Linked DNA regions of Homo sapiens: all the other regions are reported to be linked to region 1. Evidence: microRNA targets listed by miRTarBase, many of them from high-throughput screens and not tested one by one. Region 1 holds a microRNA gene; each other region holds the end of a gene's coding sequence.
Evidence for each region. Region 1 holds the annotated microRNA hsa-miR-4719 (UCACAAAUCUAUAAUAUGCAGG, at 1,906-1,927, opposite strand). A microRNA usually pairs through its seed, bases 2 to 8, with sites in the 3' UTR of a target mRNA and lowers its output. Matches are read on the target gene's strand: a 7mer-m8 pairs with bases 2 to 8, a 7mer-A1 pairs with bases 2 to 7 and ends in A, and an 8mer does both.

Region 2: miRTarBase lists CPNE8 as a target of hsa-miR-4719. Seed matches in the 3' UTR shown: 7mer-A1 at 2,446-2,452, 8mer at 2,499-2,506, 7mer-A1 at 2,593-2,599 and 7mer-m8 at 2,706-2,712.
Region 3: the mRNA of HOXD1 is a reported target of hsa-miR-4719. Seed matches in the 3' UTR shown: 7mer-m8 at 1,440-1,446.
Region 4: the mRNA of MED26 is a reported target of hsa-miR-4719. Seed matches in the 3' UTR shown: 7mer-A1 at 1,382-1,388.

What each region holds. Positions count from the first base shown.
Region 1 is chr16:76,863,793-76,870,914 of GRCh38, reverse strand. MIR4719 (microRNA 4719) reads right to left here and starts at 1,979; the gene lies at 1,896-1,979.
Region 2 is chr12:38,648,201-38,655,322 of GRCh38, reverse strand. CPNE8 (copine 8) reads left to right here. Exons shown (of 20, transcript NM_153634.3): 20 at 1,253-3,120. The coding sequence ends at 1,441. Among named protein-coding and RNA genes, the nearest start is that of CPNE8, 250 kb to the left of the region's middle.
Region 3 is chr2:176,188,919-176,196,040 of GRCh38, forward strand. It overlaps HOXD1 (homeobox D1), which reads left to right. Exons shown (of 2, transcript NM_024501.3): 1 at 1-535; 2 at 890-1,989. The coding sequence ends at 1,224. HAGLR (HOXD antisense growth-associated long non-coding RNA) reads right to left here and starts at 40. Exons shown (of 3, transcript NR_033979.2): 1 at 1-40. RefSeq lists an enhancer at 3,352-3,892.
Region 4 is chr19:16,570,106-16,577,227 of GRCh38, reverse strand. MED26 (mediator complex subunit 26) reads left to right here. Exons shown (of 3, transcript NM_004831.5): 3 at 1-2,309. The coding sequence ends at 1,201. SLC35E1 (solute carrier family 35 member E1) reads left to right here and starts at 4,813. Exons shown (of 6, transcript NM_024881.5): 1 at 4,813-5,284; 2 at 5,646-5,716. The coding sequence starts at 4,864. It overlaps LOC105372295 (a long non-coding RNA gene), which reads right to left and starts at 4,678. Exons shown (of 3, transcript XR_936360.3): 1 at 4,420-4,678. RefSeq lists enhancers at 4,507-4,596, 3,904-4,778 and silencers at 4,697-4,916, 5,047-5,156, 5,317-5,446.

The DNA of each region.
Region 1 (7,122 bases):
CCTGGGCATTATTTGTTTCATAAAATTATCCTAAGACTCAGTAATTCTTCTCGACTCAGTGTTGAAAGTATGCTCTTAGGGCATACTTAGGCATGCCCCAAGTTATCCTAAGAATCAACAATTCTTTTGGTTTCTGTCTTCTCTATTATAAGCTGGGTGTCTAAGAGATAGACAGTATATGGTGGTAGAGGCACAGGATACACTGGTGCCAGGAAAAGCAGGCACAGGAATTTCATCTATGATGGTAGAATTTGGGGAGACTGATGAGTCCTTAATCAAATTAGATCATAGCATTTTGTAGGTGAAGAAAATGAGATGCATCTACCCTTTTCTCTTTCAGTCAAAATTTAATAGTTCAATTCTAATACGAATTTTAATTTAATTTTATGTTGTGGGATACATGTGCAGGACATGCAGGTTTGTTTCATAGGTAAACCTGTGCCACGGTGGTTTGCTGCACCTATCAACCCATCACCTAGGTATTACACTCCGCATGCATTAGCTATTTATCCTGATGCTCTTCCTCCCCTGGTGCCTCCAACAGGCTCCAATATGTGTTGTTCCCCTCCCTGTGTCCATGTGTTCTCAGTGTTCAGTTCAATTCTTATCTTGATTTTTTTTTAATCTAAGAGAAGCCAGTCAAGGCCTTTAACAAGAAGTGGGCAGCAGTGGAAGATGGGTAACTCGACTTGATTTTTATTTTCCAAGAATATGGTAACAACCCTATGAAGAAAAGTTGGAGGAAAACAGGACTGGAGGTGGGGAGATCTGTTATATATTCATTAGAGTAATCCAAATAAGAAGCGATGGAGACTCAAACTCAAGTAGTTGCAGCAGTAGTGGAGAAGAAATAGATTGGGCAGTTATTATAGAATTAAAATGTATAGGTCTTGGCAATCAGTCAAATGTAGAAAGTGGAGAAAAAGAATGGATATGGAATGTGAGGAGGACATGAGGCTGAGACTGGCTGAACAGGCAAGATGTAATGCCACTTATTAATCAATAGAAATTAGAATCAGCCTAAGGACTGAAGGGAAAATGACAAGTTGAATGGAGATGTTGATGCAGAGGTGACTATGGAACCCCTCAGCAAAGATAATGGAAAATGCAATTCAACAAGCAGCTTTGCTACTTAGAAGAAATGACTTTCAAAGTTCCTATCCCAGACATCAGTATTGTCATCAATAAAACCAAAAGGTATTAATTTACTCGTCAAGGTCTCAAACCATTATAGACTAAGACTGGTTTCTTGACTTGGCTACAACTCTACACAAAATAGCTAGTGTTACATTTACAGAAATATTAAGAAAATATAGGTATATGCATTAAACTCAATTTCCCCTTCATATTCTGGATGTATTTGAGATTGCCATATATCTACATAGTTTTAAATATTTAAACCTAAGTAACTATTTAATATTCAATAAATGTGTCACATTTTATCTTGTCTTATATCAGATGTTTTGCTGTTAGTTTCTTGCATTTTATCATTAATGTAATTCATTTTCACAGAGTAATGCCTACATTCATAAAAAGAAAAATCACTACTTGAAAGACTTGATGTTGTCATGTTTGTTGAAGAATGTTCCTGAGACAATCTTGGAAATGTGAGTGAGAAGTGGGATTTGGCAGAATCTGGAAAGTTGGTCTTCAATCTGATTGTAATCCACTTGGAAAGAAGAACATCAACCAGTGAAAGACTTAATGCATCTGCATGAATGTAAATCAATCAAATAGATATTTAAGAAACTTGTTCCTTTGCTGCCATTTCAAAAGTCAATACCATGTAATATTCTAGAACAGGTCATGACAAAGTTCAACATAAAAGGAAATAACGTTTTACTAAATGCATAAAGATTTATATAATTTAAGGCTTTTGCAAACGTATAGTTTTCACAGTGATGACCTGCATATTATAGATTTGTGAAATTTTAAGTTTTAATGTAATCACAAATCTATAACATACAAGTCATCATTGTGCTTTTCAGCACTAAGAAATCTATTCTTCCACTGATGTGTGAAAGATTTAAGTGACCAGACACTCCTAACAGTAATAGCTTTGCTCTTTTTCCCTCATGCATCTGTACCAGATATTATTGCCCAGAGGACTCTGAGCAGTGTTTCTGTGTATATTTAAGAATTAAACGGTAAAATTCTACTAAATCATAATGCCAACATGATAAAATATCTGCAGTAATCATGTCCATCAGATAATGACAATAAAACATTATTATTCCATTAAAACTAAGGAGAGAAATCAACTAAAATTTGTATGCAGGAGTATTAGTTCTTACACATTTTTAAGAAACATTTGTTTACAAGTGCTGGTAATTTTTAAAAAGTTAACTAAACTGCTTAAATTGTATTAGTAACAATTTCAGGTTTACTAAATTGTTTATAAGCACCGCAGCTCTATCATTTTTAACCTTGGGTTGTAAATATATAATATAATATAAACATGTAAGTGTGTTTGTATGTATGTCTGCTCAGGTGATAAAAAATAAAAAAGTAAACAAGAAAAAAAGTCACTTAACCATTTCTATATAAAGCAGTAATGTCAACTGAACATCAGGATAAAATCAAGCAACAAGAAGACAGACTGTCACATAGGATATGTGTTATTTGTATCTAGAGAGAGTATATTCCCTTCAAATCTCTTTGGGATGACAACTTCAGTCATCCCTAGAGAACACAGATTTCACAGCACCAAAACTTCTGCTGCCAGAGTGTGTGACGTGGAGGCAGCTCCATGTACTAGAGGAGAACTTGCCTACTGCAAGGTGCACTCCTGCCCATCCCTCCATGCCAACACACTGGGTCACTGTCTCTCATGTCAGTGAGAACTGCTTAAGAATAAACCCTCTGAGGACAGCATGATTCTCCTCTGCATGGAGAAAACTAGGTTCTGCTGTCCAGAATTATGTCCACAGAATATCCCTGGTTCCTCCAACATTAAAGGGCCTAGTTGAACTCTAGAAAAGAAAAAAAAGCAATCTTTTAATCCAATCTGCTACCTTCCACCAAAAGACAACTGAGAATGATAGCAGGGAAGAAGAGGGGAAAATACCTGTAATATACTCAAAACTCTTGATGGGAAGCCAGTATCGTGCAAGGCATGCAACATATTTTAAATCTATAACCACATTTAACCTTCATAAAAACACAGTGAGATGGGCATCCTCTCCATTTTCCACACGATGAAAACTAAAGCTATCAAAGTTAAGTAGCATATCCTGTTTATACAGCTAACTCAGGGCCAGGGCAAACTCAAACTTTAGATCATCTGGCACCAGAGCCCATGTCCTTTAAGTTTCATTGTTTTGCCAACACGTCAAGTGATTTTTTTAAATTTTAAAATAATATTATGTATTTTGACTTGAGTATATTACTCAAAACAGAGCCTTGTATGTGGGATAGTGTAAAATTCCTGCTTGTTTTAATATTTTTATGCACATTAACATTTGGGAAAAACAGCCCTTGCCACTTTGTCTCCATATTTGTTGCCTACAGATGACCTGAATAAATTTAACTCTCTACTTTCTTCAAGTGTGAAGCCATCAGCACTGCTAATAAGTGATGAGCATGGCAGATAGTCCCTTCTGTCAACAGCAAGCTGCTTAAATTAAAACCACTCATTTCCATCTGAGGCCACCCTCATCCACGTGGGATATTCAGCTTTCTCTCTCAGCCAGGTTTTCAGACTCAAACCTGCAAGTCACTTGCATTGATTTTGTCTTGTTTGCCAATTTACATGTAACTTTGGCCCTGGACTTCCAGTAATGACAACAACATTATGCTTTGATGCTATCCATTTTCTTGATTTATGTGGGAATACTTTTCTGATTGTCTCTAAGACTCATTATATAAGGTGTGTGTAGCCCAGTCAATTGGCAAGGGTACCAAGATATCAATGGGATTGCAGAGTTTTCCTTCTCTGGTTATTCCCTGCAAGTGATGAAAAAAAAATATGCATTTTCTCCTAGTGCTCTTTCCTAAAATTCCAAGTGAAATATAAAATACTTTCATTTGTTTTTGCCAACTTAGATTTATGGACTCTGCTCGAGCTCCAAACAAAATTTTAATTTGGTCTAATCTTTATTTCCTAGGTTTTTATTAACCAACTATATGTCTGAGATAATTTTATAGCTAATTATTATAGTTAGGGGAAGAACACAACAATAAAAAAAACCCAGTCATCTCATTTAGACACCAAGATCTGCCAAGAAATATTTTACTAAAAGCAATAACTTGTGGTTAATATCACTAACAGTCCTGGTAAATAAAAAGATATGCAGGAATTACATGAAGAGGATACTATAATAGCAATGATTCTATTTCAGAGATCTACAATATGCACTATAATATTTTCCTGATAAGTCAATATTGATACTATAGCAAAAACGTAATAATGGAGGTTATCAAAATGTTTGATATGGTCTGGCTCTGTTTACACACCCAAATCTCATCTTGAATTGTAGCTTCCATAATTCCCACATGTTGCGGGAAGGACACAGTGGGAGGTAATTGAATCACGGGGGCAGTTTCCCCCATACTGTTCTCTTGGTAGTGAATAAGTCTCATGAGATCTGATGGTTTATATAAGCAGAAACCCTCCTCGCTTGGCTCTCATTCTCTCTTGTCTGCTGCCATGTGAGACATGGCTTTTGCCTTCTGCCATAATTGTGAGGCCTCCCCAACCATGTGGAACTGTGAGTCCATTATACATATGTAACAAACCTGCACATTGTGCACATGTACCCTAGAACTTAAAGTATAAAAAATATATATATAAAACCTTTTTCTATATAAATTACCCAGTCCCTAGCATGTCTTTATCAGCAGTGTGAAAACGGACAAATACAATGTGGTAGGCCAGTTGTCTAAGCCCGGTATTAGGAGTTTAATGTCTCTATCCTTTGAGAACTTACAAATATATAGGTAGAAAGGTATATGTATATATATATATACATATATATAAATCTTATGATGAACCAAATACATACTTTAGAGTCAAAGTGAGAGAAGACGATGACTTGACCATAGAATTTCAAGCTATGAATTTGCAAGCTTGAAAATGGAAGAAGGGGACCCCTTCTTTCGCTTCCAGGCAGCCTTTAGAAGCAGAAAAAATCAAGGAACATTATGGACACACACATGCATATGTATATATATATTTATATACATATAAAAATAGATATATTTCATCCAATCTATAGATTAAAAATTTTTGAATGAAAATATATTGCTGGAAGTATGAAATCTGTGGGTATTTGCTTTTTCGAGTGAAAAAATTATCTGTCTTAATTGCTGTGGTGGTAAACCACATGCATATATTTATCAAAACTCAGATTACATATTTTGTAAAAATCTATGCATTTTATGAATGAAAATTTTACCTTAGAAAAATATTGATAAAGCATATTCAATAATGTATACTTAGACTTAAGTCTAACTTACATGGTCACAAAGGGGCAACTGAGATGCTCTATTAGTCATCTTATACTTTTTTCGTTATGCTCACTAATGATTTGAATGAGAATCTCCATCTTTAATTCCATTTCCTCTCCACACTTTCCCCTCTTGCAATCTCTCTACTATCCATGTGCATTATAACTGCCTGTGATGTGGTTGGCAGCATAATGACCCCCAAATATGTTTGATATGTTTATCTGTCTCTGTGAAATTTTCTTTTGAATCCCCAGAATCTGTGATTATGTTACCTTACATGGCAAAAGGGACTTTGAAAATACAATTAAGAAACAAAATGGGGACATTATCTTGGACTATCCAAGTGGACCCAATGTAATTACAGGGGTCCCTAGAAGGGAGAGGGCAGTAGAAGAGAAAGTGAAAGGTCTGACCATGGAATCAGAAGTCAGAGTGTTCTATCTGCTAGTCTGAAATTGGAGGAAGGGAACATGAGCCAAGCAATGCAGGCAGCCTCCATAAACAGGAAAAGCAAAGAAATCTTCCCTGGAGAGCTCTTCCCAGCTTTCCGAAGGAACACAACCCTGCCAGCACATAGATGTTAGCCCAGGAAAACCCATTTCAGACCTCTGCTATCTGGAATCCTAAGAAAATTAATTTGTGTTAAGTGACGTTGTGAATTAGGGTTCTTAAGAGGGACAGAACTAACAATACATATACATGTATATATAAAAGGGAGTGTATTAGAAAGAATTGGCTCACATGATCACAAGGTGAAGTCCTATGATAGGCCATCTGCAAGCTAGAGAAGGAAGTCAGCAGTGGTTCAAAGTCCGAAAGCCTCAAAAGCAGGGAAGCTGGCAGTGCAGCCTTCAGTCTGTGGCTGAAGGCACAAGAGCCCCTGGAAAACCACTGGTGTAAGTCCAAGCGTCCAAAGGCTGAAGAACCTGGAGTCTGATTTCCAAGGGCAGGAGGAACCAAAGGAAACATCCAGCATTGGAGAAAGATGAAAGCCAGGAGACTCAGCAAGCCAGCTTATTCCACCTTGTTCTGCCTGCTTTGTTCTAGCTGTGATGGCAGCTGACCGGATGGTGCCCACTCACATTCAGGGTGGGTCTTCCTCTCCTACTCCACTGACTCAAACGTCAATCTCTTCTGGTAATACCTTCACAGAGACACCCACAAACAATATTTTACCAACTATCTAGGCATTCATTCAATCAAGTGACATGTAATATTAACCACCAGACTAAGTTTGTACAAATTTGTTTCAGCAGCAACACAAAATATATTGCCCCTAACTTTAGAAAATCCATTCTGCCCTGACAATTATGACACTGAACTTTCCTAGGTTTTATCTTTACCTTTTGTTACCCTCTGTCTTTGTTAAATTTTCTTTTGGAAGAGGGATTTTAAAAACCCTAGAAATCTAATATTGGATAATTTGCCATCACTTCAAACACAGCATTCCAAATCTTATCTTTTTATATATTTTTAAAATTAGAGCCCCTTCAGTCTTCCTTATTGCTGCGGTTTGGCTGTGTCCCCACCCAAATCTCATCTCGAATGGTAATCCCCACGTGTCAAGGGAGGGACCTGTAATAGGGATTCTTACATGGAGACCTTTAACCTTCATGTGTGGAGAAAGGGAGGTGTGGATTGTAGGGGAGGTTCCCCCATGCTCTTCTCATGACA
Region 2 (7,122 bases), not on the chromosome of region 1:
TTTATTAACTTAAGTAACCATTATAAATGAGAATGGAATCAGGCAATCTATTACAGGAGCATTTGGTATTGAGCCGATAAGGGCTCTCACATAATTACATATATAAAGATATAGTAATCATTTTTATTAAGGGTGGTGCAAAAGTAATTGCGGTTTTTGCCATTGAAAAACCACAAATTACTGCAAAAACTGCAATTACTTTTTGTTCCAACCTAATATATGTTGTTAGAATGATGATATTTCCATAAGAAATATACCCAAATCTTATGCCAAGATCTTTTTTCCTGTCTTCCCAAATAGTAGATACTCAAAAATCAACATCTGATGCAAAACTCAATGTACTGAATATTTCAGCTTCCTATTAATATGAGCTGTGTGAATTCTATATTCATAGTCCATGCGATTTTGTCTTAGAAAGAATTAAAATACTTTAATGTGTTTAGGACTTTTTAACAATGTACACTATTATATTTTACCCTGAATTGGGTAATACTCATTTCTTATCCAGAATTGGGTAGTATTTTTATATCAGAAGCTGAATTAGGCATATATTAACTCCATTTGACAGGAAACCAAGCCCCAAAGAGGTTAAATGCTCCATCCTGTTGGGATTCAGGCTGGGTATAGAACCTAAAACTGCAGAAGACATTTGGCAACATAATAAGCCTATTAGGATTAAGTGACATGAGTTATTGGAGGAAAAACATAGAAAATGATTGCATTCCTTTTGAGATAAAGCATATATTATGTAAGTTTAGTCACTTATAGCTATTTGTAGTGTATTGAATTTTTTTTTTTTTTTTTTTTTGAGACAGAGTCTCGCTCTGTCGGCCAGGCTGGAGTGCAGTGGCATGATCTCGGCTCACTGCAACCTCTGCCTCCTGGGCTCAAGCAATTCTCCTGCCTCAGCCTCCCGAGTAGCTGGGATTACAAGGGTGTGCCACCGCACCCAGCTAATTTTGTATTTTCAGTAGTGACACAGTTTCACCATGTTGGTCAGGCTGGTCTTGAACTCCTGACCTCAGGTAATCCACCCACCTCAGCCTCCCAAAGTGCTGGGATTACAGGCATGAGCCACCATGCCTGGCCTATTGAATATTTTTAAAAATGTATAATAATTGTTATCCATCTCTCCATTACTCTCAGATTCCCTGATTTTCCTATGACCAAATGTGTACATGTGTTGATTTTTTGTGTTTATTACATAGCCTGCTAAAGTCTGTGAAATAACTTTCTTTCGTCTCTGTTTTAGTTTGTGCCATTCAGGGATTATATTGACAGAAGTGGAAACCACATACTGAGCATGGCTAGATTGGCTAAAGATGTCCTAGCTGAGATCCCTGAGCAGTTTCTCTCCTATATGAGAGCCCGAGGAATCAAGCCATCACCTGCGCCTCCCCCATACACCCCACCTACACATGTGTTACAGACTCAAATATGACTGTGCTCTGAAATGCTAATGTCAACTACAAATCAAAAGTGCTGAGTTAATGCTTTGTGCCTGGTGCTCTGTAATGAACCAGGCAATGAGATAGTTTTCTCAGTTTGGTTTCAGCAGTTAATGTGCTTTCTTGGATCCAAATTTAAATATCTTCCTAAACCAAAACTGTAAATATGGTTGTTGCATGAGCAACAGAAAAAATTGTTTAAATGCTTGAAGCAAAGTATGGATGTCTTCTCTAAATCTTTCTTTCTTTTTTTTTTTAACAGAAACAGCTAATTTCCAATGTATTGTTGGGAAAAAGCACAAACTGTGTTTTTAACTCAAATATTGTCTTCGACTGCTATGTGTATAGGAAAGCAGTCTCTGTATCAATGTTTACATGTTACTACTTTTTAAATTTCAATACTTTTATAACTGTTCTTAAAAATAAGAGTTTTAAATACTGAATCCTTTGTCTTCTAAATTGCAATAGCTATAATCACAAGAGCAATATCTCTTTGAATGACTGTCTGGACAAACACAATTGCAAATAAGGGAAGGGAAAAATGCTTTTCTATTTTTCAGTAACTGGATTGTCTTAAGAAACTACATCTGCTTAATAAACAATTTCTCAGCAATGTTTGCTGGGTATGGGAGTTTAAGCCCGGCAGATGTGTCTCCTGGTTGAACATGCATTTTTCATGGAGTTTGGGTTCTAAATTTAGACTGCAGTTGGTTTGTATTTTGTAACACTAAGTAGAAATTATAAAAAGTCAAACATTGTGATCTATAAATGCACAGAAAATACTTTGTAAAAAGTAGCATCCTTATATAATAATGCTATTTAGAAAGACTGAAACCAAGACTATTTAACTGTGAACTATGTAGCAGATGTTTTAAACTTTTTATTCCATTATATCTTGTCTAGATATTTTAATTCAAAGGGATACTGGCTCTCTTGATCGGAATTTCTTGTTATCACCATTCCACGTTGCCACACAAGGTGCACAGGCTGGAAGTCTTTTGTGAAATTCCCAGTTAAATATATACAACTATGTGACTTAGTGCACAACACATTTGTGAAATAACCTACTCCTATATACTGACCTGCCTGTCCACGAATAATTGTAAAGGGTTTTTGCATGTACAGTTTTTACAAGAATTACAGTTTTGTGAAGTTGTGTCTAAATTAAAGCATTTCTTTAGAACAAATGGCCTTAAATTCTCACGGAATTCCTGGAAATGATTGTGAATTGCCTTCAAATAATAGAAAAGTGTATTTATTTGTGTGTGTGTGTGTGTCAAAAATGTAACTGCTTTATAATATTTTTTCCTTACCTATATATTCTATTTAATACTTGGTTTATTTCTACTGTACATTGTTTTCTTTGTCCCAAGTTGACCTAGGGTGACTTTTATAAGCATGAAACTATTTTACTGGAAAGAAAAATATATACATCCACATATCTAACAGTATCAATGTTATATAACTATGTAATAATTGTTGATTTTTAATTATGTATTAAAATCTTTAAATCATAACTATTTGCTTTGTACGTTTCATGTATGAATGACAATAGTTTGATGATTTCCTTTACTGATCTTAAATATTTATGCCACTACAGTGTATTACCTACAGATTTTTAAATTTAGCTTTATTTATCAACCCAAAAAACAAATAAATAAGATCAATATTCTTTTCTTCTTGTCAAACATCAGTTATTTTTTTGAACTGTCCAGAGAAAACAAAAGTTGTACAATTCCTTGTATAAATAATAGATTGCTCAAACCTAGTGGGAGTAAATGGCCAGGAATGAAGCAATTTCTCTTTACAAATGTTATCATTTATATGGCTGAGAATGATAATCAGAAACTTATGTGAAGTTAATGCTACATGTAAGATTAGAAAATACGTAAATCTTGTGTATTCATTGCAAAAATGTAGTAAACCAAGATTGGAGGGATTAAGTGATGTATCCAAGACTATATAACTAGAGAAGAGCTCATTACCATCTTGGAAATATTTGTTATAACTTACATTTTGTTAGTTGCTATTAGGTGCTATGCAATAGGAAATCCCAGAGACATGCTTCATAAAGGAAAACACATAGTAATAGTTGTACATACAAACTGGTTATCAGGGATATTTACACTTACGGTAATGAGCAACAAGAAAGGTATATATTGAGAAGGGGTGATAGATTCAAGTCATTAAACCTGCTGCAGAAGTCAGTCTTCAAGTGGTGCCCTCAAGAACCCCAGAGACTTTGGGCACTGTCCTATCTTTGTAATCTCATTTCCTTCCTCTCCAATGAAAGCCTCTAATTATCATTTGAACTCCAGGATGAACTCTTGGTGTTATTTTCAAGTATCTCCATCATCTGAATTTGCCCAGTTATGTAATACCAATTCCTATTGCTTCTCAAATTAATATTAAAACTAACCAGGCCTGCCTCATTCCTTTTCCGCAACCACTCCGAGTTTACCTGGAGTCTGTCTATAGTGTTCATACTCTGTTCTCTCATCAAGCCCTCTTCTCTGGTCTTTACCTGAGGATATCCTTTGCACTTTCCAACTCAAGCCCCAGCTCCTCTGAACCTTGTTCTTTAAAACTTCAATGCTAACAATAATCAGTACTTTCTATGAGCTCATCTTTGTATTGCATTTCAGCATATTAATTGCCTCAGATTATTTCTAAACTATTTTATTTTATCTGGGGCATCTTGTCTCTCCATCCTTATGGAATAGTATTTAATGGCACCTGGTAAATTTTTAAAGCTCCCCAGTTTATTGTAATGTGTAGCTAGAGTGTGAAATTGCTGCAACTAAAGACTATTGGATGACTCAATTACTACTTTTTAAATTATCTCTTCCAACATGCAATATCGAGAGAAAAGAAGAGGTGGATATGACTCTGGTGGTGGTGAATGTGGGAAGAGAGTGGATTTGGGATTAGGGTTGGAGCATAGGTTATTTTGTTTTTCAGGCTCAGGGAAGATAATAGATGGACTCATGCACTTTTTTTTTTTATTACTGTGTCATCATCAACTTAGGAAATAAAGACCTCTCACAAAGATGAGGTGGATGTGGTTATTTCTTAGAAGACCTGAAATGCCAAAGATTTTACTGAAGAGCATGCCTTTTTCTTTCAGCTTGCGTGAATTTTATTTAATGACTTTGTGTTACATATAGCTGTAATTGAGACAAAGTGGCCAGATTCTTCATAAAAACTCAGAGTAAAGAATAATTTTTGTGATTAGCACAAATCAGATACATTTACTAATAAATAAGCTGCTGAGTTGAGGATCAAATAGATTGAGTGCATGTGGAGTGTTACCTATGAAGATGGAAAAGATGGAAATCTACTTGCAAAAAGTCACACTTGTGCAGAGCTTTCTCATCAGTGTGTTACAGATGATTTACAGATTTATGCCTTGCAGATGGGCTACAGGTGTGCACCTTGGGGTGGTGTATAGTGCCTGGGGTAATTGGAGCTCCCAGCCTCCATCATGTTCATTGGCTAACCTCAGGATATTTTAACAAACATTCCCATTTTTAATGTGTGTCTTGAAATGTAGGGAAGCACTGCATTACAGAGATTATTTCCTAAATAACCTCTGCTTACAGCCAGTTCCACCTTCATTTTTTCTACTTATATGCCCTACGATATTTATACTGAAATTAAATTGAAAGAGTATTCACATACAATTCCATGGCAAATGTATTGTAGCAAATAAACTTCAGAGGAATAAGACATGAATGTCCTTGCATTTTTCACCACCTTCTTCATAAACATCCTACCACTCACGAAAATAGGTGTATCATCAGATGACCCAGAGGACATCAAAGCGTAGAGTCAAAGGGATTCAACCTTGTTATTTCCTTAGAATAAACACTGTTCTAGAAGACATCCTCTTCTCCCAACCATGACTGTTCCCCTCACCCCACTTTCCTACCAAGTATCACTCTATTTGCTCTGTTGATACCTGAGCGTCATTTAACAATAGGCAGTCCTTCATTTTACAAACTATTGGGATGTGCTGAGATCAGATACACGGATCTTAAGAATAAGCACATTTTAAAAACATATTGACATAATTCTTTGCACCAAAATTTTTTCTAAAAAAACCTTTCTTCATCATATCTTAGTTACTTAGGTATGACTTTGATAAGGGAAGACTTGGTATATCATGAACATGCACAAGTTTTAAACGGCTTCCTTAGGAAATGTGAAAGGGGAAATAGAGAAGCAACAAACAAGTATTTTCTCATGAGTTATTGCCTAAGCTATGTTTATAACTCTTAAGAGATGATTATCCTAAGCAATGCTCACCTCCTAGATTTCAGGTTTTTAACCTGGAATGAGGAGATACCAAGTAGAAGTACTTTCCCAACACAGAGTAGCCCATAACAAAATTATTTTTCTTTAAATTGATATGACCCCCACCCCCAGCTACCATTTTACTGTATAGAATCTTACTTCTTTGTCTCTAAGCAAAATATGCTAACATAATACACAGAAGTCTCCAAATATAATGTCTATACTAAGATTATCTCAAAGACATAATAGTTCTAATTCATATCACAAACTTTTGAGCAGTATTTGAGGCAATATATTCACACCTCATCAGTCAGGGTTATTGCTTACCTCATACTTCATCAGCACACCCCCAACCCCAACAGCTAACCTTGCTCTTATTTTCTGGCTTTAGAGATGCTCTGAATGTCAAACTCTGAGAGGAAAATGACCACTGAACTCTGACTATGGAAAGAGCAAAAGCAAACTGATCGAAAGATTTGCTCATTTAGTTTTAAAGCAATAGTGACCATGACCTCATGATTTTCTCACCACAAAGTTATTCACCAATTTAATTTCCATGAAACAGGCCTGCTGGGCATTCCTAATGTATTTAGATAAGCTGATTTCATACAGATGGGATTTGCTATCAGTCAAATGGGTGGATGTCATTGACCTCACAAATTAGGGGGAAGGATAAAGGAAGGAATATGCTTAGGGTTGGCTTAAAAATAGCTACTCTTTCAAAGATCTTTCTCTCCTTATGAAATAAATGAATTAAAAGAAGTTATAAGACTGGTTCAGTAATTTTGACAGAGAACAACCAGTTTGTTAACCCTTACAATTTCTGCAAGATAATGCTGACAAGAAACAATAAATAATGCACCTTTCAAATCTTTAAAACAATATTTAAATCAGAATCTGCTTAAAATTCACAAAATTTTACTATCACTTTCAACCATGGCAAAAGGCATACACTGTAATTTAGACATGGGCAAATTTGTCATGCACTTTAGATGACAATTCTGCACCAGATTTCAAAGAAAGTGGGTGATCCCTGAGAAAACAAAATGACAATCACTAGAAACCACTTTGCATCATCAAGCAACAACTTTTAAATCCCTAAACATTATATGGACCTAACCCATCTCCCTTAAAAAAAAGTCTGTGACATCGGCTTGCAAATCTTGAGATAGGTCATCAGATTAGTCTTGAAAGATGAATTATAGGTGCCTTTTATCTTTCATTTATTTTCTGAGGATATCCTGTTGTTTTCAATCAATGATTTGAAACCTAAATTAAAAGTTACATGTGTGCTTGGTATCTTCTATAGGCTGGTTATGAAATTGCTAGACGCTTCAATGGAAGGAGTGTGACTCATCAATGTGCCATCTACTAAGAG
Region 3 (7,122 bases), not on the chromosome of region 1:
GCCTTCCCTCTGGGCAACGGCGACGGCGCCTTCGTCAGCTGTCTGCCCCTGGCCGCCGCCCGACCCTCGCCTTCGCCCCCGGCCGCCCCCGCGCGGCCGTCCGTACCGCCTCCGGCCGCGCCCCAGTACGCGCAGTGCACCCTGGAGGGGGCCTACGAACCTGGTGCCGCACCTGCCGCGGCAGCTGGGGGCGCGGACTACGGCTTCCTGGGGTCCGGGCCGGCGTACGACTTCCCGGGCGTGCTGGGGCGGGCGGCCGACGACGGCGGGTCTCACGTCCACTACGCCACCTCGGCCGTCTTCTCGGGCGGCGGCTCTTTCCTCCTCAGCGGCCAGGTGGATTACGCGGCCTTCGGCGAACCCGGCCCTTTTCCGGCTTGTCTCAAAGCGTCAGCCGACGGCCACCCTGGTGCTTTCCAGACCGCATCCCCGGCCCCAGGCACCTACCCCAAGTCCGTCTCTCCCGCCTCCGGCCTCCCTGCCGCCTTCAGCACGTTCGAGTGGATGAAAGTGAAGAGGAATGCCTCTAAGAAAGGTAAGTCCGCGGGCCTTGGATGGGGCCACCTGGGGTTGGGGACGGAGCCTCCCCCGCGGAAATGCGCTGGGAGCGTGGTGTCGCTGCCTTTCCAGACAGCGGTTTGGGTTTTGTGGAGGAGACGCGTTCCCGGGCGAATTCCATGGAGTCTGCCTCGAGTACAGATTCGGAAAATGTGCCAGGCATTGAGAAAATTTCAGGAAGGAGCTCTCCGTGGAACTTCTCCTGGTACAAATTCTGTTCCTAGGGACCCAGGAGGGCTGCGCTGGGACTTTGATTCTAACTAGCTCCACTGCTCACCCACATTCTGTCCCCGGCCTCAGGCCTGGCTGACGCCCTGTCTTTACGTTGCAGGCAAACTCGCCGAGTATGGGGCCGCTAGCCCCTCCAGCGCGATCCGCACGAATTTCAGCACCAAGCAACTGACAGAACTGGAAAAAGAGTTTCATTTCAATAAGTACTTAACTCGAGCCCGGCGCATCGAGATAGCCAACTGCTTGCACCTGAATGACACGCAAGTCAAAATCTGGTTCCAGAACCGCAGGATGAAACAGAAGAAAAGGGAACGAGAAGGGCTTCTGGCCACGGCCATTCCTGTGGCTCCCCTCCAACTTCCCCTCTCTGGAACAACCCCCACTAAGTTTATCAAGAACCCCGGCAGCCCTTCTCAGTCCCAAGAGCCTTCGTGAGGCCGGTACTTGGGGCCGAAAAACTGTGGCCTGCAGAAGTCCCAGGCGACCCCCATCCCTATCTAGACTTAGGAGCTCAGTTTGGGATGGAGGTGGGAGAACAAAAATGAATAGGGATTTCACTTGGGAAATGAAGTACTTTAGTTGGCTTCCGAGTTCCAGACTATATGTCCAGATATTAATTGACTGTCTTGTAAGCCACTTGTTTGGTTATGATTTGTGTCTTATCAGGGAAAAGGTGCCCAGCTGCCAGCCCAGCTCCGCTGCTATCTTTGCCTCACTTAGTCATGTGCAATTCGCGTTGCAGAGTGGCAGACCATTAGTTGCTGAGTTCTGTCAGCACTCTGATGTGCTCAGAAGAGCACCTGCCCAAAGTTTTTCTGGTTTTAATTTAAAGGACAAGGCTACATATATTCAGCTTTTTGAGATGACCAAAGCTAGTTAGGGTCTCCTTGATGTAGCTAAGCTGCTTCAGTGATCTTCACATTTGCACTCCAGTTTTTTTTTCTTTAAAAAAGCGGTTTCTACCTCTCTATGTGCCTGAGTGATGATACAATCGCTGTTTAGTTACTAGATGAACAAATCCACAGAATGGGTAAAGAGTAGAATCTGAACTATATCTTGACAAATATTATTCAAACTTGAATGTAAATATATACAGTATGTATATTTTTTAAAAAGATTTGCTTGCAATGACCTTATAAGTGACATTTAATGTCATAGCATGTAAAGGGTTTTTTTTGTAATAAAAATTATAGAATCTGCTGCTCTCTGCTTTTCTTACACTCTTTAATAATGATTCTCTTTCTTTAAAGTTGATTCAGTTTCCTGTATTTGAATTTTCTTGATTCTGCTATGAGAATTTGTTTATGTTGATAACTTTTTTTTTTTTTTGACACGGAGTCTTGCTCTGTTGCCCAGGCTGGAGTGCAGTGGCACAATTCTGGCTCACCACAACCTCTGCCTCCCAGGTTCAAGTGATTCTCCTGCCTCACCATCCCCAGTAGCTGGGATTACAGGCATGAGCCACCATGCCCAGCTAATTTTTTGTATTTTTTTTAGTAGAGACGGGGTTTCACCATGTTGGCCAGGTTGGACTCGAACTCCTGACCTCAGGTGATCCGCCCACCTCGGCCTCACAAAGTGCTAGAATTACAAACGTGAGCCACCACGCCCAGCCGATAACTTTTAAAAATAATACTTCCTACAGGTTGTGTACACACCCAGCAAGTTATGGGCAATTAGTAGTTTAAGAGAGAAAACTACTCTGCCAAATATCCAAGTAACTATGGAAATACTTTCCTTACCTTGAGTGCCCTAATTTTATGGTAGGTGTGTAGTCTGCACATTTAACTCAAGTGTTAGGTGCCTACTGTGGAATGTTGTAAAGCCAAGGAGACACTTCAGGGAGATCTTGTTCTTTTGTCTCCTGTCCTCACAAAAGGAAGAGGAAAGGTGACCTGAAGACTTTGTTTCTTGGTTAGTGTTCCCTGAGAAAGGCAGCTGCACATCAAAAAGTTCTCAGTGGCTGAATTCCCATTTCCAAAGTCAAGAGTTACAAAGGAGGCTGGGAAAGGCTAGTAGTCACAAATTTCTACTTCCTGTAACCCAGACTGAGTATCTGGCGGAGAGAGAGCACAGACAGTGCCTTTCTGATTTCAAAAATGAAATATTTTCAAATGAATACTTTGGAAGAGGTACAAGCACAAAACTTGAAAGTTGACAAGAGAGTATGTGGTTAAAAAAAACCCCAAAACCTATTCTCTAATCTATTTCACCCAAACTCCCATTTCTCATCCCGGGAGGCATTCATAGTTGACCAGAGTTTATGTAAACTTGCAGAAATATGAGAAAAAGATGCAATATAAAGATACAGAATCAAGTGGATACTTGGGACAGTTTTGGGGAGTACGTCCTTATTTTACAACTATATCTTTAAGTTCTTTCTATAGTTCAACAGAAGGGCTAACGGCCCAAATAATTCAGATAAGAACCTCAGCTCTTTTAGCTAGATTTCTAGATTCCAGTATAATGCTTTAAATCTAATTATTCATAAATCTAAGCAACTGTGAAAGATTACCTTTTTTATAAAGCAGCAATATGATTAGTTCTCTTAGAAAATTGGAGTTACACTGAAGTTCTCATTCTTTGCACCTATAGTTGAATGGAGTTGAAGAAATAAAATGATCAGCTCCAACAAACTCAGCTGATTAGAGGGAAAAGATACTGCTTAAAAAGCAGGTCTGTCAATATTATTCTTGTTTCCCCGGCTGCCCTTTAATAACTTGATGCTAATTGAATCTTGTTTGAAACAACAGCCCCCCTCTGAGCTCTACTGCTATTTGAAAGAACTTGTTAAAGGACTTGTGATCTGCTTGCTTACAGCCACCTCTGGGCTTCCCCTGCAGTGGTCTTTGACATGACAATGTTTCCTTTTTGATAAGCATTTAAATGTACACCTAAACAACAACAACAACAAAATACCAACATGCTGGGTCATTTCCTTAATCTACCACCCTTTTCTCTGAGAAAATAAAGCTTTTCCTTCTGAAGCTAGTACTAGCACTTAGCCCTGATGGATGTCTTCCTTGATGAAGGTGGCTATTATGACATTCGTATAATGCTATTCTATGAATCAGGCCAATATTAGCTATTTTTTGCCCAACCCCAGGGATCTTTAAAAGCTTTCTTAATGCAGATCACTGTACAGCTATATTCAGTATTAGGAAGAGTCCTGGCTGGAGATCGGGATGAACTAGGTGACCTCTGGAGGTCCCTCCCAACAATGAAAATGCTACAATTTAATGACTTCTGCATATTTTATTTTAGACCTATCATTTGAAGGGAGTTAGGCTCTAAGAGAAAGCAAATGTGCTGTCTAGGATTACAGTGATACTGTGTTTATACAGGAAAAGAGGATTTTAGACACTATCAAATACATGTTGTCAGTGGAGGTACCTAGGCAATGTGGATCATTTACAGAGCATTCCTTTTCCTATTATTTTGAGCCTTGTGTTATTTTGAGTCAGATCTCCATGAAGTATGAGGTTACTATGTAAACTGCAACTACTCAAACAATCCCGTTTCTATTTTACAAGATTTCAAACTAAATATGCTAATTTACCCTCCAGTGATCTGTTACAAGGATGAATACACAGTGGACAGTTCTGGCTGTTGTATAATTAACTATTCAATGTTCCTTTGTCTTCACATAATGACCATGTGTCTACTTTTCTGGATCAGGATAATTGGGAGTGAGGAAAAGGAAAGCACTTAATAATATATAAAATTCCCATAAGTTGAGTACTAGCAAATGAAGGCTTTGCTGATATAAAAACCTAAAGCAATGTCACCTAGAGTTTCAAAAGATTAATTGTGTGTGATTTATGCTGCCTCAATCTCAAATATGGTGAGGACCAACACCAGAAAAGGCTGTCTGATTATCGTGTCATCCAAAAAAAACAGAAGCAGGCTCAGGAGAGTTGCATTAGCTCTGAAGTTCTTAATTATTCCTTATGGCCAAAGAAATGATCTATATTTGCTGAATATTGAATTTGAAAACCTCAGGATCTAATCAGTTTCCGAGAGTTGTTTAGTCTGACCACAGACCTCTCAACAAGAAAAATGCCCATTGTTAAAACTTTATTTGTGGTTTTAAAGTAAAACCATAGTGGACATATCTCACGAAGATAAATATCCGTCTAAATAGAAACAAAGATGTTCATGGTTTTTACCTCTATCTAATGTTTTCAAGTCATGAACATGCAACAAATCTGCAAAATAACTCTATTTCAACATCTCATTTGTAATTGCTTATTACGTTGTACTTGTTATTCAGAAATAAAATTTCTATAGAAACTGTTTAACTAGATTCAATAATGAACCAAGAGGATGAAAATCCTAAATATTGGTGTGAAAGGAAGGTCTATTACTTAGCTTGTAAAGATTTCAACATAATCTCTTCTCCTTCTAGAAATCTTACTGATGTATTTTGGAAAGAAGGGCCAAAGAGTAGTCATTTGGACTTGTCATAGCTAATAAACTATTACAAGTTTATTAAAACTGACACTTTTGAGGCATTTCTAGAAGGTGCTGGACTCTTCAGCACACTGAATTCTTAGGGATTTTGTAGAGCCTAAGCTTATACAATTTGGGGAAACCTCTTTAAGGAAAAAAATACAAAATTGTTAATACAAAATTCCCAGGATGTGGAATGGTTCAAGTTAGTGAAGTTTACATTTCACTGGGCTCATAGTAAATTCATATCTGCCCCTTCCTTGAAACCATCACTTTTTCTCCACTGCCATCATTGCCTATGAGATAATAGCAATGATCGCTTTTCTCTAACATCTTAGAGCCAGAGTCACTCTTTCTCTTCAAATGCATCAAATAGTGGATAATGGGGACAAGGGCAGGTTGGCACTCTGTTCTACTCTCTTAGCATCTCAATCTCACTGTGCTCTTCTGGGCTACTGGGTGGCTGACTTTAGCCAGTGGCTTTTCCCATTCTACTGCCTTAGAATGGGAACCCTATCTCATCCTAGAGGTCCCCTTCTGTTGTGTTTTCTTCTCAAAGATATAAACAGAAGAGAAAGATATAGCTGGAGACAATGCAGCCACATTGTTAGCGTCTAAACATTTCCTAGGATGGAACCACTGAGGCTGAAGTAAAGGACCCTGAACAAATAACATTATTATTTTTCTTTTCTTAGAAATGGGATCTTGTTTTGTTGCCCAGGCTGGTCTTGAACTCTTGGGCTTAAGTGACCCTCCTGCCTTAGCCTCCCAAGTAGCTGGGAATATAGGCATGCGCTGTCACACCCAGTAAGAACATTATTCTTTTGCTTTTTTTTGAGATGGAGTCTCGCTCTGCCGCCTAGGCTGGAGTGTACTGGCGCAATCTCAGCTCACTGCAAGCTCTGCCTCCCGGGTTCATGCCATTCTCCTGCCTCAGCCTCCTGAGTAGCTGGGACTACAGGCACCCGCCACCATGCCTGGCTAATTTTTTGTATTTTTAGTAGAGACAGAGTTTCTACCTTGTTAGCCAGGATGGTCTCGATCTCCTGACCTCGTGATCTGCCCACCTCGGCCTCCCAAAGTGCTGGGATTATAGGTGTGAGCCACCGCCCCTGGCCAAGAACATTATTCTTAAGGGAGGAGACCTGGATTTCAGTACCAGTTGTATTTTCTGATTAAAAGGAAAAATAGCTTGCCTGGTCTTAGATTCTCCTATAAAACAAAGTGGGTTGGTCTGGATGATCATTACATTCCCTTATCACCTTAGCATTTCTTCACAATCCTTTACTGTGCTGGTTATTACTGAAGAGTATTTAGTAGTACTGTAGCTCTGTAAGATTAATGTCAATGAGAGGCTGGGATTGAAGTAATTTCTGAGACCTTTAAAAATTATCTGGCTTGGGCCAGGCCCGGTGGCTCACGCCTGTAATCCCAGCACTTTGGGAGGCCGAGGCGGGCAGATCACGAGGTCAGGAAATCGAGACCATCCTAGCTAACACGGTGAAACCCCGTCTCTACTAAAAATATAAAAACAAATTAGCCGGGAGTGGTGGCGGTTACCTGTAGTCCCAGCTACTTGGGAGGCTGAGGCAGGAGAATAGCGTGAACCCAGGAGGAGGAGCTTTCGGTGAGCCGAGATCGCGCCACTGCACTCCAGCCTGGGCGACAGAGCGAGACTCCGTCGCAAAAAAAAAAAAAAAAAAAAAAAAAAAAAAATTATCTGGCTTTAGAATCTGGGTGTATGTGCATATGTATATGTGAACTAGGTAATGTTCCTCATTTGTCTACCTGATGAACTAAAAGCTAACGATGGTGAGAGCCTCCAAAAAGACCACTTTCCTTTGAATAGATAAACTAGATCTTAACAAGAGATTTTTCAAA
Region 4 (7,122 bases), not on the chromosome of region 1:
TGCAGGCCCAGAGGGCAGCCGCCTGGAGCGTGACGAGAATGACAAGCACAGTGGCAAGATCCCCGTCAACGCCGTGCGACCGCACACCAGCTCCCCGGGCCTGGGCAAGCCCCCTGGACCCTGCTTGCAGCCAAAGGCTTCGGTGCTGCAGCAGCTGGACAGGGTGGACGAGACTCCGGGGCCTCCCCATCCCAAGGGACCCCCTCGCTGCTCTTTCAGTCCTCGGAACTCACGGCATGAGGGCTCCTTTGCCCGGCAGCAGAGCTTGTATGCACCCAAGGGCTCCGTGCCCAGCCCCTCACCGCGGCCCCAGGCACTCGATGCCACACAGGTGCCGTCACCGCTTCCACTGGCACAGCCGTCCACACCCCCCGTACGGCGGCTCGAGCTGCTGCCCAGTGCGGAAAGCCCAGTGTGCTGGCTTGAGCAGCCTGAGAGCCACCAGCGGCTGGCGGGGCCGGGCTGCAAGGCAGGGCTGTCCCCAGCCGAGCCCCTCCTGTCCCGGGCAGGCTTTTCCCCAGACTCCTCCAAGGCGGACAGTGATGCTGCCTCCTCAGGGGGCTCGGACAGTAAAAAGAAGAAGAGGTACCGACCTCGAGACTATACGGTTAACTTGGACGGGCAGGTGGCTGAGGCGGGCGTCAAGCCTGTCCGGTTAAAAGAGCGGAAGCTCACCTTTGACCCCATGACGAGACAGATCAAACCTCTGACCCAGAAAGAGCCAGTGCGGGCAGACAGCCCTGTGCACATGGAGCAGCAGTCCAGGACAGAGCTGGACAAGCAGGAGGCCAAGGCCAGCCTCCAGAGCCCCTTCGAACAGACGAACTGGAAGGAGCTGTCACGCAACGAGATCATCCAGTCCTACCTGAGCCGGCAGAGCAGCCTGCTCTCATCATCGGGCGCGCAGACCCCAGGGGCTCACCACTTCATGTCTGAGTACCTGAAGCAGGAGGAGAGCACCCGGCAAGGGGCCAGGCAGCTGCATGTGCTGGTGCCTCAAAGCCCGCCCACGGACCTCCCTGGTCTGACCCGGGAGGTCACACAGGACGATCTCGACAGAATCCAGGCCAGCCAGTGGCCGGGGGTGAACGGGTGTCAGGACACACAGGGTAACTGGTATGACTGGACGCAGTGCATATCGCTCGATCCGCACGGCGACGACGGGCGCTTGAACATTCTGCCTTATGTCTGCTTGGACTGACCGGCCTGTCAGCCACAAAGTGCATTCCCATCTTGCAGAAGCCGGGTGGGCGGGCAGGCAGGTGGGCAGGTGGCCGGGGCCCAGCTGCCTCCTGCGCTGGGAACTCGGGGAGTCCGGCCCAGGCGGGAGGGAGGGGGCGGGAGTCACGCGGTCTCTCTGCGCTCTTCCCTCAAAACTCTTTTTGTGAAATGCTGCTACCAGTTTACTAACAAAATTGCGAAGAAGGACCGCGTGGAAGGAAGGACGGCAAAGTGAGTTCAGAACTCTATAGCAAACCAGCTATAAAAAGCGTTAGTCCCTCACCCCCAAAGAGGTGCGGACACTTTCCAGCACCTGAAAGCTGGGGCCTCAGTTGCAGGCAGGCACAGAAAACCTGTGGGAGAGGTCACCTTTAACACAGCAACAGAAGCACGCATCTCATCTCTCTTGCATTTTCTGTTCTTTAATTTGGCCCTGAGTGTCTTGAGACAGTGGGCCATGCCACTGCCTCTGTTTGCTCCCTACCCAGCCACTGTCAGGCCAGTGTTGTCTGTCATGTGCCAGAAGCTTCTCAGCTGTGGTGAGCCACTGGCATTGGGCAGGCGGGCCAGCTGGCCAGCCAGTGTGACCCACACTCCATGGGCAGCCACCTGTTTATATCTGGTTTCAGTTATAACCCAGTTTTTAAAGAAATGCTGCAAAAATTTAAGTTTTCTCATGTTTATTTTAAACAATTCCTCTTCCATCAGACCACCAGACAAAAAAACCTTTCCTTTCTTCCTCCCTTTTCTTTTTTCCCTTCCTGTACACATCTAGAAAACTTCACCTTTCTAGAGTCCCCCCAAAACAACACAAAAGTTATTGTGGGTGCTACTGGTTTTATGCTGTACTGTGGGGCGAGGGGGAAGACCTGTCTGTACGCTGGAAACACTCATAACCATTCCTTTAGATTCGTTTGCCTTATGGTTATTTGTCATAAACGCGATTTGCAAAAACAAGGAGCCTTAGTGAATGTACAGTACCTAGACTTCTGTGTTCTCAGGACGCAGAAGGGAGCAACTTTGCTATTTGGTCCAGTAAGTGGACACCTTGTGATATAAATGTGGAAATAAAAAAAAAAAAAAAACCATTTGCACAAACCAGTCTGAGAATCTTTTCTCATTTGGACCTTCACAACCAAATCAGCCCTTTCCTGGATTGTGGATTATTAGCCAGGAACACCCAGACCCCAACAGCTGCAATGCAGGGAGACAGGGCAGGGCACAGCCTTGCAGTCCACCTGTTAGCCTGCTGCTGCATTTGGGAGGACCTCCACATTTTATTCATTCAGGGCCACATTAAGGAATGTTTTCTTGTCTCACCCAGACTTTACCTGGCCTAGAGAGCAGCCCTCTGTAGGAGGCTCCCATAGCACAGGTCTCAGTGACTACCCCCACCTCAACAAAATACCTAGTTCTTACAAGGTATGGCCCAGAGGCTCAGAGCTGTGTGTGTGTGTCTGAAAGGCCACCCCATGGCCCTGGCCCCCAGCTGCCTTATTAGCTGGTTGGTGCTGACTCCAAAAAAATTTTTCTCCCTTGACTATAAAGTGCTCATCTTTTAGTTCCCCCTCGTCCCTGAAACTGTAGGCTAAGACTTTGGTTTTCCAGTTTTTCACTTTGGAATAGGTCATCTTACCCATATCTGCTTAATTTCACAAATGAAGAAACAGCTACACCTTAAGACATGCAGTCTCACAGGGCAAACCAAAGGTTCCTTCCAGCCTGTAAGACTACAGTCAGTCCAGAGCCAGTTTGAGAGCTAGCAGGGATTCCTGGCAAAAGCTTGGTGCAGAACACACTCCCCTCCCCAACAAAAGGCCATGGGCAAAGTGGCTTTGAAGGCAGGATGAGGTTGAACCCAGGCCTACCACCCACCAGCTGTGTGGCTCTGAGCTCATCTCTTCACTCCTGTGCACATGTCCCCATTTGGGGGGTGAGAATACCCCAGAGTTGTGAGAACTAAAACACAAAGCATGTCAGTGTGTCAGTGGAAGTATCTGACACTCAGCTGTGCTGTAGGGTGCCTATAGTTATACTTTCCTAATTTCACTGTGCCTATGTTTAACAGCTCTGCTGAGACATGGTGTCCCAAGGATGTGACTTTACTCTGATCCACAGAGGGTACAGCTGGAGGATATTAGGGTGCAGAGCTTGGCCTCCTATCAGCATCTCTAGAGTTTTGGGATAGGTTGCAGCTCCCCACTACCCCTGCCTGCAGGGACTACCATGCCTGTGTCCATGTATCCAGAAGGGCCTAGGGCCTTTGAGAATGCAAGGATAAGCTAAGATACCTTCCAACATTTGGGGAGCCAAGTTGGGTTGCTGCTTTCTACTTTTCTTTGAGACTGGGTCTCGCTCTGTCACCCAGGCTGCAGTGCAGTGGCGCCATCATAGCTCACTGGAACCTTGACCTGGGCTCAAGCCGATCCACCCACCTCAGTCTCCCTAGTAGTGGGTACCACAGGCGTGCGCCACCACGCCTGGCTAATTTTTGTATTTTTTGCAAAGATGAGGTTCTGCCATGTTATCGATGCCACGATCTCCAACTCCTGAGCTCAAGCAATCCGCCCACCTTGGCCTCCCAAAGTGCTGGGATTCCAAGCTTGACTCACTGCACCCAGCCGGTTGCTGCTTCTAATTTGACAAGTAAAAACACTGTAACGGAATTTTAACACCCTTTCCCCGAAAAAGTTGGAGGCACACGATGTGGAGAACAAATTATAGCCCTTGAATTAGTATAAGATCATCTTACTGAAAACCTCGTCCTGTTTTCCTCCACTGGGGCCTCCTGGGGCTGGTCCATCCCGGCTGGTCCTTGGACATCAGCCGTCAGGGCCCGGCACCTCCCCCTTCTGCAGAGCCTTGGAGACAGGTGTCCAAGGACGCTACCATGACCACGGTCCCCAGTGTGGCCAGGAAGCCTAAGACAAGTCGCTTCCCCATTCTGGACTTCGGTCTGTGAAATGCGGACAGTGATACCTACCGCACCGCGTTCCTAGGATTCAGTGGGATGATACCAGGGCCACGCCCGAGAACTGCGCACGTCGCGGTGGTTTCCAGAACATGATTCCAGGGATCGGGTGCTCCGGGATAGTCCCACTGCCAGAGTTTGGCCACGAGCGTGCGCCCCCAGTTTGCAGAGCGAGTTTAGCCCAAGAGCTTTTCACAAATGGTTTCTTTCCCTAAAAGGCCTTTTACCTTTGGTGTCAGCCGCCGCCAGCCATCAGGAATCAGGAATCTAGTTAGCGGTTGCCCTTGTATCCCTGGTCGAGGCCCTGATGTTTGGCCCACGCACAGACGCCGACGCTGCGAAGCCCTCCGCGCTTCTGTTCGCCCGTCCCGTTCGAGCTCCGGCTCCCGGTCACTGGGACCGCCCACGTCTCAGGTGGCACAGCTTGGACGCAGGTCTGTGTCCCCTTCTTCCGCTTCCGGCCTCGGCTCCGCCGGAAGCGCATCTACAGTGGACTGGGCCTGCACTCGAGACGTGGTGGCTGGCGCGTCGGCCGGCGCGGAGGGATGACGCGAGGAGGCAGCGACCAATGGGAAACGGCGTAGACCGGGGCGCCTGCCCCCCCGCCCAGCCCCGCCCCCGCCCGGCGTCGGGCCGTCGGACGGGCTGGAAGGGGCGGCCGCTCGGGCAGGATGGCGGCGGCCGCGGTGGGCGCGGGCCACGGCGCGGGGGGCCCGGGCGCAGCGAGCAGCAGTGGTGGGGCGCGCGAGGGCGCGCGGGTGGCGGCGCTGTGCCTGCTGTGGTACGCGCTGAGCGCGGGCGGCAACGTGGTCAACAAGGTGATCCTGAGCGCCTTCCCGTTCCCGGTGACCGTGTCGCTGTGCCACATCCTGGCTCTGTGCGCTGGGCTCCCGCCGCTGCTGCGCGCCTGGCGCGTGCCCCCCGCGCCGCCCGTCTCGGGCCCCGGACCCAGTCCGCATCCGTCGTCCGGCCCGCTGCTGCCGCCGCGCTTCTACCCGCGCTACGTGCTACCGCTCGCCTTCGGCAAGTACTTCGCGTCCGTGTCAGCGCACGTCAGCATCTGGAAGGTGCCCGTGTCCTATGCACACACCGGTAGGTTCCGCGCCCGGCCTCGGGGGCGGCGGCCGGGCCCGCCGCTTCGGGTTTGGGCGCATGGATAGGAGTGCGCCGCCCGGGGCGCGTCCCGCCGGACTGAGAAGTCAGCAGAGGGGCTGCCAAGGGTTTGGTAGGGGAGGGACACGCACGGGGTTCTCAGGGAGAAGAGGAGCTGAGAAGAGAGCTGAGAGGTAAGCAGGACAGACCACAACAGCCGTGGCAGGAGGAAGCCCTACCGAAAGAGAAGGGGCGAAGAGGTGTGAGGGGCTGCCAGGCCCTCCCATCCCGCCGTGGAGGTGGAACAGGTTGGGCCCTGAAATTCAGGCAGCCCCCTGAGTGCCCATCCCTCTCTTTGCAGTCAAGGCCACCATGCCCATCTGGGTGGTCCTCCTGTCCCGGATCATTATGAAGGAGAAGCAGAGCACCAAGGTAACCCCGGGCAGGGACTCTGGGCAGATGGGAGCTCCAGGGGGTTCCTCCCTGTTGCCAACTGGTGACGTGGTCAGGATCCTGGTCTGCAGGCTGCCTGGCTTCCCGTCAAATAGGGAAGTCAGTGTAGAGGTCTCCAGTGGCCTTTTACTACTCAAGTTCTAGAATCACCCTGTGAGCAGTGGTGTGTGGAGTATGTGTCCCTCTGTGATCTCTGCTGTGTGGTCTTAGGAACACTGTTGTCCCTTTCAGATCCAATTTTCCTCCCCGTTTTGATTCCCTACCTGGGTTTGCTGGTAGGTGATGGGTTGGTCACATCTTGGCCATACACCCCATGTGTGGCCTTTCCAGTGGGACTAGGGATGGATGGATCAGAACGCTGTCGGTTAGGTGTTCACTTTTTTTTTTTTTTTTTTGAGACGGAGTTTTACTCTTGCCCAGCCTGAAGTCCAGTGACACAATCTCAGCTCACTGCAACCTCCGCCTCCCAGGTTCAAGCAGTTCTCCTGCCTCAGCCTCTCAAGTAGTTGGGACTACAGACGTGCACTACCACACCTGGCTAATTTTTTTGTATTTTTAATAGAGACAGGGTTTCACCATGTTGCCAGGCTGGTCTCAAACTCCTGACCTCAAGTGATCCGTCCGCCTCAGCCTCCCAAAGTGCTGGTATTACAGGCGTCAGCCACTGCACTTGGCTAGGTTTTCACTTCTTGACAAGAGATTTCTGTCAGGGGACCTCTGGGATCAGAAGCCAGACGCGATCCAAGGAGTTCGATCTTGGCAAAATCCAGCAAAGTCTTAGAAATTAAAACAGCCAGAAGTTGTGATGGTCTGGGAACGGAAGCGAAAGTGGCACACAGGACTCAGGGCTGCATAAGGAGGATGCTTTGGGCACAGTCCAAATTCTGTTCAAGATGCCAAGCCAGGGTATTTCCTGGCTTGGGGCAAGAATAGCCATGGCTTTAGCCGGAGACAGCTTTATCCCGTATTCTTAAGTGGAAGTTGGGCGCTTGTTGTCTCAGCCGGAATCCATTTCATGCTGATGCTGGACACCGTGCCTCTTTTCCAAGTGGTTGGTTTCTGGCATGTTGTATTTTATGTAACTCAGAGAGGTAGTGCCCTGGATCGGCTTATAGAAATTGGGCCACCTATGGCTGATTTTTTTTTATTCCTGCCTGTCTTTGTCTCAGCAAGACCTGTGTGTGCTCTGTAGCCCTGCTCCCCCAGGGTGATGTCAGGCTGTGACTTGGCTCCTGAGAAGTCAGAGTTGTCCCTGAGGTGTGTAGCTGCATCACCGGATATCATCGTGTGTATCAGGTTTCCCCGTTGTACGGGACATTGTACCCAGCTTGGGCAAGGAGCCGGAACTTCACACAGTGAGGAAAGACTGGGAATTGGCCCGGTTA